Homo sapiens: one gene and its partner. The protein of the gene in region 1 interacts with the protein of each later gene in a pairwise test. Each region holds a gene or a part of one and is shown in the gene's direction. Other genes may lie near its edges.

What was found.
Region 2: the proteins of HOXA2 (region 1) and NDE1 interact in a two-hybrid assay, tested with the Homo sapiens proteins (one large-scale study listed by BioGRID).

What each region holds. Positions count from the first base shown.
Region 1 is NC_000007.14:27,099,884-27,103,831, reverse strand, and holds HOXA2 (homeobox protein Hox-A2), read left to right. Parts: upstream 1-1,148; 5' UTR 1,149-1,331; coding exon 1,332-1,722; intron 1,723-2,366; coding exon 2,367-3,106; 3' UTR 3,107-3,478; downstream 3,479-3,948. UniProt on the Homo sapiens protein: Sequence-specific transcription factor which is part of a developmental regulatory system that provides cells with specific positional identities on the anterior-posterior axis.
Region 2 is NC_000016.10:15,653,245-15,656,744, forward strand, and holds part of NDE1 (nuclear distribution protein nudE homolog 1), read left to right. Parts: intron 1-3,500. UniProt on the Homo sapiens protein: Required for centrosome duplication and formation and function of the mitotic spindle. Essential for the development of the cerebral cortex.

The sequences.
Region 1 (3,948 bases):
GGGTATGAAACCCAGAATGCCAGGAGCCGCACGCGCCTGCTCGGGGCGGCATTTCTTTGGCTGGCCGCCGCCCTGGCTACGGGGATTTGGACACATGGACCTGGGGTTGTTGTCTCGCTTGGCACATGCATCTTTCTCCAGCCACTCCTGAGAAGTTGATGGCGCAGGAAGGTCGGGAAGCTTCGAGAGCCGCCTCCCGTTTTCCGCTTCCCGCCGGAGCCAGATGCAAAGCTGCCGTGGAATAGCCTGCTAACAATGGGCCCGGGGCGCAGACTCTGGGCTGGACACTGGGAGGGGGGCGAGAGGCTGAGGGGAGAAGGGGAGGCGGACAGAAGAGAGAGGGAGGGAGAAAGGGGGAGAAGAGGAAAAAGAGGGAAAGGGACAGACAGGAAGGAAAACAGACCGAGAGAGATCAGTTTTGAGATCCAGGAACTGCTTTTAGGAAAAGTGAAGGAGGAAAAGGGAAAGAAAAGGAAGACCCCTTCCCAACCAAAATCTTTCCTTTCTTCTCTCTTTTCTGTCTTCTCTTTCTCCATCTCTCAAACTCTCTCTTCTTCCCTCTCTCTTTATTCTCCCTCTCTCATCTCCTCTCTTCCTCTGCTCCTTTCTCCTGCTTTAACAGAACTTATGTGGCTGGGACGCAGGGCCCTCGGGTGTCAAAACTTTGAAGATTAATGGATTACTTTGTTAATGACTGCAGGCGTCAGACTGAGGTGCTTAAATGATTTGTGAGGTGCGAGGCGTCTTCCCGACAGTCCCAAACAATGCGCGGAGTGTGCGGGGGAGGCAGAGGGCAGCCACCGGCGGGACCGACAGCAGGGCTTACACTCGCGCACATTCACACACACACACACACACTCCCAGGCACACACACTAGATAGATCCTTGCAGATCAGGAGGCACGCAGGCACCCTCGCCCCCACGTACTCCGGGACATCCCCACCCACACCAACATATATGTATTTTTGCTCTGAAAAAAGTGTAAATAAAGCCTCGCTGGCCCCCAATGAGGCGTTCCTTCCCGACTTTTTTGGATCAATCAAACAGACAGTGGCTTCTTTTGATTAAAGCCCAAATTGTCATTGGGCAGAAGCAATCATGTGACAGCCAATTCGGTCCAATTTCAACCTTGTCTCCATGAATTCAATAGTTTAATAGTAGCGCGGTCCCCATACGGCTGTAATCAGTGAATTAGAAAAAAAACACCCTAGCAGCGATATTCTATGATAGATTTTTTTTCCTCTGCGCTCGCCTTTTTCCTAGGCCTTGCCCCCCCAAAGCCCCTCCAAAAGAGGGAACTTTTTCTCTGAGGGGGCTCCAAGGAGAAGGCCATGAATTACGAATTTGAGCGAGAGATTGGTTTTATCAATAGCCAGCCGTCGCTCGCTGAGTGCCTGACATCTTTTCCCCCTGTCGCTGATACATTTCAAAGTTCATCAATCAAGACCTCGACGCTTTCACACTCGACACTGATTCCTCCTCCTTTTGAGCAGACCATTCCCAGCCTGAACCCCGGCAGTCACCCTCGCCACGGCGCTGGCGGCCGCCCCAAGCCGAGCCCCGCGGGCAGCCGCGGCAGCCCGGTGCCCGCCGGCGCCCTGCAGCCGCCCGAGTACCCCTGGATGAAGGAGAAGAAGGCGGCCAAGAAAACCGCACTTCTGCCGGCCGCCGCCGCCGCCGCCACCGCCGCAGCCACCGGCCCTGCTTGCCTCAGCCACAAAGGTCAGTCCAAAGACTTGGCCCCAGGTCTCTGGGACCCTCTTCCTTCTCCGGGCTGCCCCGAGAGTGGCTGTGGGGGGAGGGGAGAGTGGGCTGGGAGAGAAGGAGGAGAGGGAGAGATGCTTGGTTGCCTTGTCCCTGCCCCTGTGGGTTCAGGAGTGGGTTTGATGGAGAGGAAAGGGGATCCTGCGCTCTACAATGAGACATATATATTTTTAGGAAGTGGGGGGAAACTTTCCCGAACTTGTGTAATGTGGGATGATTTATTTGAGTTGGAACTGACCTCCTCCTGTCTAGTTGTCCTAGAGTTTGGCTTTTTGACAGTAATGAAGAGTGATAGATCGCTCTTGCTCAGCTAAGCAGCTGACGCATTAATTATAAATTGTGTTGTGGCTAATATAAAGTTTGCTCCCGGATGAAGAGGTTGGGGGGAGCCACAGGCATGAATTCGATAGAGATGGAGGAGACGGGGTCTGCCCAGGCTGGGCTCCCAGGAAAGGCAGCACAATAGCTCTACTGCATCCAGGGGCGGCCATTTTGTTGCAGTTGATCTTTTCTGCTATATTTATTCTCCAGTGGAATAACCCCGCTCGGACCCCTCCACCTCCAACTGTGCGTGTGTCTCTTGTTGGTTTCCCTTTCCGCAGAATCCCTGGAAATCGCCGATGGCAGCGGCGGGGGATCGCGGCGCCTGAGAACTGCTTACACCAACACACAGCTTCTAGAGCTGGAAAAAGAATTTCATTTCAACAAGTACCTTTGCAGACCCCGAAGGGTGGAGATTGCAGCGCTGCTGGATTTGACTGAGAGACAAGTGAAAGTGTGGTTTCAGAACCGGAGGATGAAGCACAAGAGGCAGACCCAGTGCAAGGAAAACCAAAACAGCGAAGGGAAATGTAAAAGCCTTGAGGACTCCGAGAAAGTAGAGGAGGACGAGGAAGAGAAGACGCTCTTTGAGCAAGCCCTTAGCGTCTCTGGGGCCCTTCTGGAGAGGGAAGGCTACACTTTTCAGCAAAATGCCCTCTCTCAGCAGCAGGCTCCCAATGGACACAATGGCGACTCCCAAAGTTTCCCAGTCTCGCCTTTAACCAGCAATGAGAAAAATCTGAAACATTTTCAGCACCAGTCACCCACTGTTCCCAACTGCTTGTCAACAATGGGCCAGAACTGTGGAGCTGGCCTAAACAATGACAGTCCTGAGGCCCTTGAGGTCCCCTCTTTGCAGGACTTTAGCGTTTTCTCCACAGATTCCTGCCTGCAGCTTTCAGATGCAGTTTCACCCAGTTTGCCAGGTTCCCTCGACAGTCCCGTAGATATTTCAGCTGACAGCTTAGACTTTTTTACAGACACACTCACCACAATCGACTTGCAGCATCTGAATTACTAAAAACATTAAAGCAAAACAAAGCATCACCAAACAAAAACTCCTTTGACCAGGTGGTTTTGCCTTCTTTTATTTGGGAGTTTATTTTTTATTTTCTTCTTGACCTACCCCTTCCCTCCTTTAAGTGTTGAGGATTTTCTGTTTAGTGATTCCCTGACCCAGTTTCAAACAGAGCCATCTTTTACAGATTATTTTGGAGTTTTAGTTGTTTTAAACCTAACTCAACAACCCTTTATGTGATTCCTGAGAGCAGTATGAGGCCTGCAAGAAAGTGATCATATAATTGTATCTTCACTTTCTTTTTATTTTTGTATTACATTGGGATGCATTGTCATGCATATTTTTTGTAGAATAAATTCTCCTTTGCTATAAGTAGCTTATTTTTCTCCCCCTCTTTTTTCAAGGCTCATAACGGGTTCTTTTTCTTCTTTTAGTCTAACTTCGTAAATAAAATTCGTCACAATTTATCCTCTTTTTTCAATTTTAATACATTTATTAAGGCGGCATGTTCAAAGTCTTCAATGGACAGCAACAAAACAGAAAGCCAAAAAATGACTAGGGCTTCTAATAAGTGTTTTTTCTTTCTTTTTTGCTTCTTCTTCTCCTCTTTCTTTTTAAAGGATTTGATTTTCAGTGCACAGGTTCAAGCCATAGATTTAAATTGGTAATAGAGGCAGAATTGGACAGTCTAAGATTTGGGCCAAGCCCAAGCTCTTGAAAGTGGAGAAATAAAGTGCCTACAGAAACCCCCAACTCCAGGAATGAGTAACACGGAGTTTCTTTAATAAGCTACCAGTCTCCAGGTCAATAACTAAGTTATCAACAATTCATTTGTTTATACACTT
Region 2 (3,500 bases), on another chromosome or scaffold:
TTTCCACATTCGTGAATGATGGTGTGCATCTTTGAACATGGGTCCTTGCCTGCCTAAGTATTTTTGTAGGTTGATCATTGTAAACTTGGAAAGCACAAAGACAGAAGCCAGGCTTGCTGACTCTTGACTGATGTTGCCCCAGTGATGTCACTCCTGCAAAATGCAAAGCCTGCGTCCTGGCTGTCGGAGCATGTGTGGACATTTGGCAGCTTCTTTCTCTTCCCTCCTGCTCTTCTGTTTGTTTTGATTGGGAAGGATATGGAGTGGGGATGGAGAAGGGTGTTGAGTAATTATCGATGGTTTCTGTATGTTTATTGCTCCTGACTAGCAGTGCTGGGTTTCTTCTCTCAGAGGAAAGCTGAAAGAGATTGCTTTGCTTTTTTCCAGAGTTTTAAAATCAGAGGTGTGTGTCTCGAGTGTATTTTCAGACTTTTTTGTTAGCTTTAATCATGTAAAACATGCAAAAAAAAAAAAAGCATGTGGAAACAATTTTTTTTTTTTGAGACGGGTTCTCGCTCTGTCACACAGGCTGGAGTGCTGTGGGGCGATCTCGGCTCACTGCAACCACCGCCTCCCATGCTCAAGTGATCCTCCCACCTCAGCCTCCTGAGTAGCTGGGACCACAGGTGTGCATCACCACACCTGGCTAATTTTTTTGTGTTTTTGGTAGAGATGGGGTTTCACCATGTTGCCCAGGCTGGTCTCTTATCTGCTGACCTCAGGTGATCTGCCTGCCTCACCCTCCCAAAGTGCTGGGATTACAGGCATGAGCCACCACACCCGGCCGGAAACAAATTTTTGAAGGAGGCATAGATCTCTGTTGTGCAAAATAGATACTTTTTGTACCACTGGGTCCTAGTTTGTCATTGTTCCTTGCATGATCCCATCAGATTTGTCTACAGAGCTGCTGGGGCATGATGGTGTGGTGGCGTATTAAGAACGCAGGTTAGTGGCACACAGATGAAATAAATGCATGTGGGGTGCATTTTTAAGATAGCAGGTGCAAAGTTGTATATACTGAGACCAGGCATTAACACTTGCCTATTACAGTGCCTTTTAAAACACTATGTGAGGGCCGGGTGCAATGGCTCACACCTGTAATCCCAGCACTTTGGGAGGCCTAGGTGGGCAGATCACCTGAGGTCAGGAGATCGAGACCAGCCTGGCCAACGTGGCGAAACCCCGTCTCTCCTAAAAATACAAAAAATTAGCCAGTCGTGGTGGCATGCACCTGTAATCCGAGGTACTAGGGACGCTGAGGTAGGAGAATCGCTTGAAGCTGCGAGGCAGAGGTTGCAGTGAGCTGAGATCACACCACTGCACTCCAGCCTGGGCAACAGAGAAAGAGATTCCGACTCAAAAAAAAAAAAAACAAAAAAAAAAAAAACAAAACTGGACCAAATGAAACAAGTGAATCTGATCTGCAGTCAGTCAGTTTGCAACCCCTGGGAAGCCTTGGACTTGAATGCAAAGATCCCTTGAACTTGGATCTAGTTTGCCTCTGCTGCTCACATGCACATTTAGAGATGGCCAAGGCATACGGTGTTTCTGCTTCCAAGAAACAGAGTGGTTGTCCTGTTTAGCCATCTCTTACAGTCACACAGCTTAAAGAAGATAATGTTTGCAAACAATTTTTGAAATGTCTAGCACACAGCAAACAGAAGGTCAAATTCAGTACTTAATGCTGATAAAATAAGAGAACCCTTGCAAGTCATGTTGCCTGCTTTCTGCCACAGAGAGTACTGCAATAGAACTTTCTGACGTTTTCATGTTGTTTATTTATTTATTTTTTGAGACAGAGTCTTGCTCTTGTGCCCAGGCTGGAGTGCAGTGGTACAATTTCTGCTCACTGCAACCTCTGCCTCTGGGTTCAAGCAATTCTTGGGCCTCAGCCACCCAAGTAGCTGGAATTATAGGTGCGCTCTACCACACCTGGCTAATTTTTGTGTTTCTAGTAGAGACAGGGTTTCACCATGTTGCCCAGGCTGGTCTTGAACCCCTGGGCTCAAGCAATCCACCCACCTCAGCCTCCCAAAGTGCTGGGACTACAGGCGTGCATCGTGACGCCCTGCTGATTTGTGTATTTTTAGTAGAGACGGGGTTCACCTTGTGCTGGTCTCAAACTCCTGGGCTCAAGCAATCTGCCCACCTCAGTCTGCCAAAGTGCTGGGATTACAGGCGTGAGCCATCGTGCCCGGCCTCTCTCTGACATTTTTGAATGGCAAAGGCAAAAATCTTATACTTTTAAGGATGTGGAGAAATAGGAACACTTTTACACTGTTGGTGGGACTGTAAACTAGTTCAACCATTGTAGAAGTCAGTGTGGTGATTCCTCAGGGATCTAGAACTGGAAATACCATTTGACCCAGCCATCGCATTACTGGGTATATACCCAAAGGACTATAAATCATGCTTCTATAAAGACACATGCACACGTATGTTTATTGCGGCATTATTCACAATAGCAAAGACTTGGAACCAACCCAAATGTCCAGCAATGATAGACTGGATTAAGAAAACGTGGCACATATACACCATGGAATACTATGCAGCCATAAAAAATGATGAGTTCATGTCCTTTGTAGGGACATGGATGAAATTGGAAATCATCATTCTCAGTAAACTATTGCAAGAACAAAAAACCAAACACCGCATATTCTCACTCATAGGTGGGAATTGAACAACGAGAACACATGGACACAGGAAGGGGAACATCACACTCTGGGGACTGTTGTGGGGTGGGGGGAGGGGGGAGGGATAGCATTGGGAGATATACCTAATGCTAGATGACGAGTTAGTGGGTGCAGCACACCAGCATGGCACATGTATACATATGTAACTAACCTGCACATTGTGCACATGTACCCTAAAACTTAAAGTATAATAATAATAAAGAAAAAGAAAAAAAAAGATTGCTGTTTTATGATAAAGTGAAGTGCAGCTGTTACTTCTTCCTTCTTTGCTTCCAGCATCTCTCTTCCCTAAGGATTGCTTTTAAAATGTAAGAGTTTTTGGTTGAAATGCTGTTCCTGTGGTTTTTGTCTCTTGGTTGGAGTGAAAGATTTTGCAGGCTGTGATACAAATCCAGTTCTCTGCTTATTTTCTCCTCAGTCCTTGAAATCCAAAACCAGATCCCTCCCATTGGCCCGTTGTAATTAGAACCTGCCCCACAATAGACGCACCTCCTAAAGCATCTCAGATTCATTTCTTTCCTGAGGATTAAGTTTTTAAACCTTCCTGGCCAAGATAACAGTGTTTTAAGAGGCTCTTTTCTTTTATTATTATTATTATTATTATTACTCTTTTCTTTTTTTGAGATGGAGTCTTGCTCTGTCACCCAGGCTGGAGTGCAGTGGCAGGATCTCTGCTCACTGGAACCTCCACCTCCCGGGTTCAAGAGTTTCTTCTGTTTCAGCCTCCTGAGTAGATGGGATTACAGGCATGTGCCACCATGCCCAGCTAATTTTTGTATTTTTAGCAGAGATGGGGTTTTACCATGT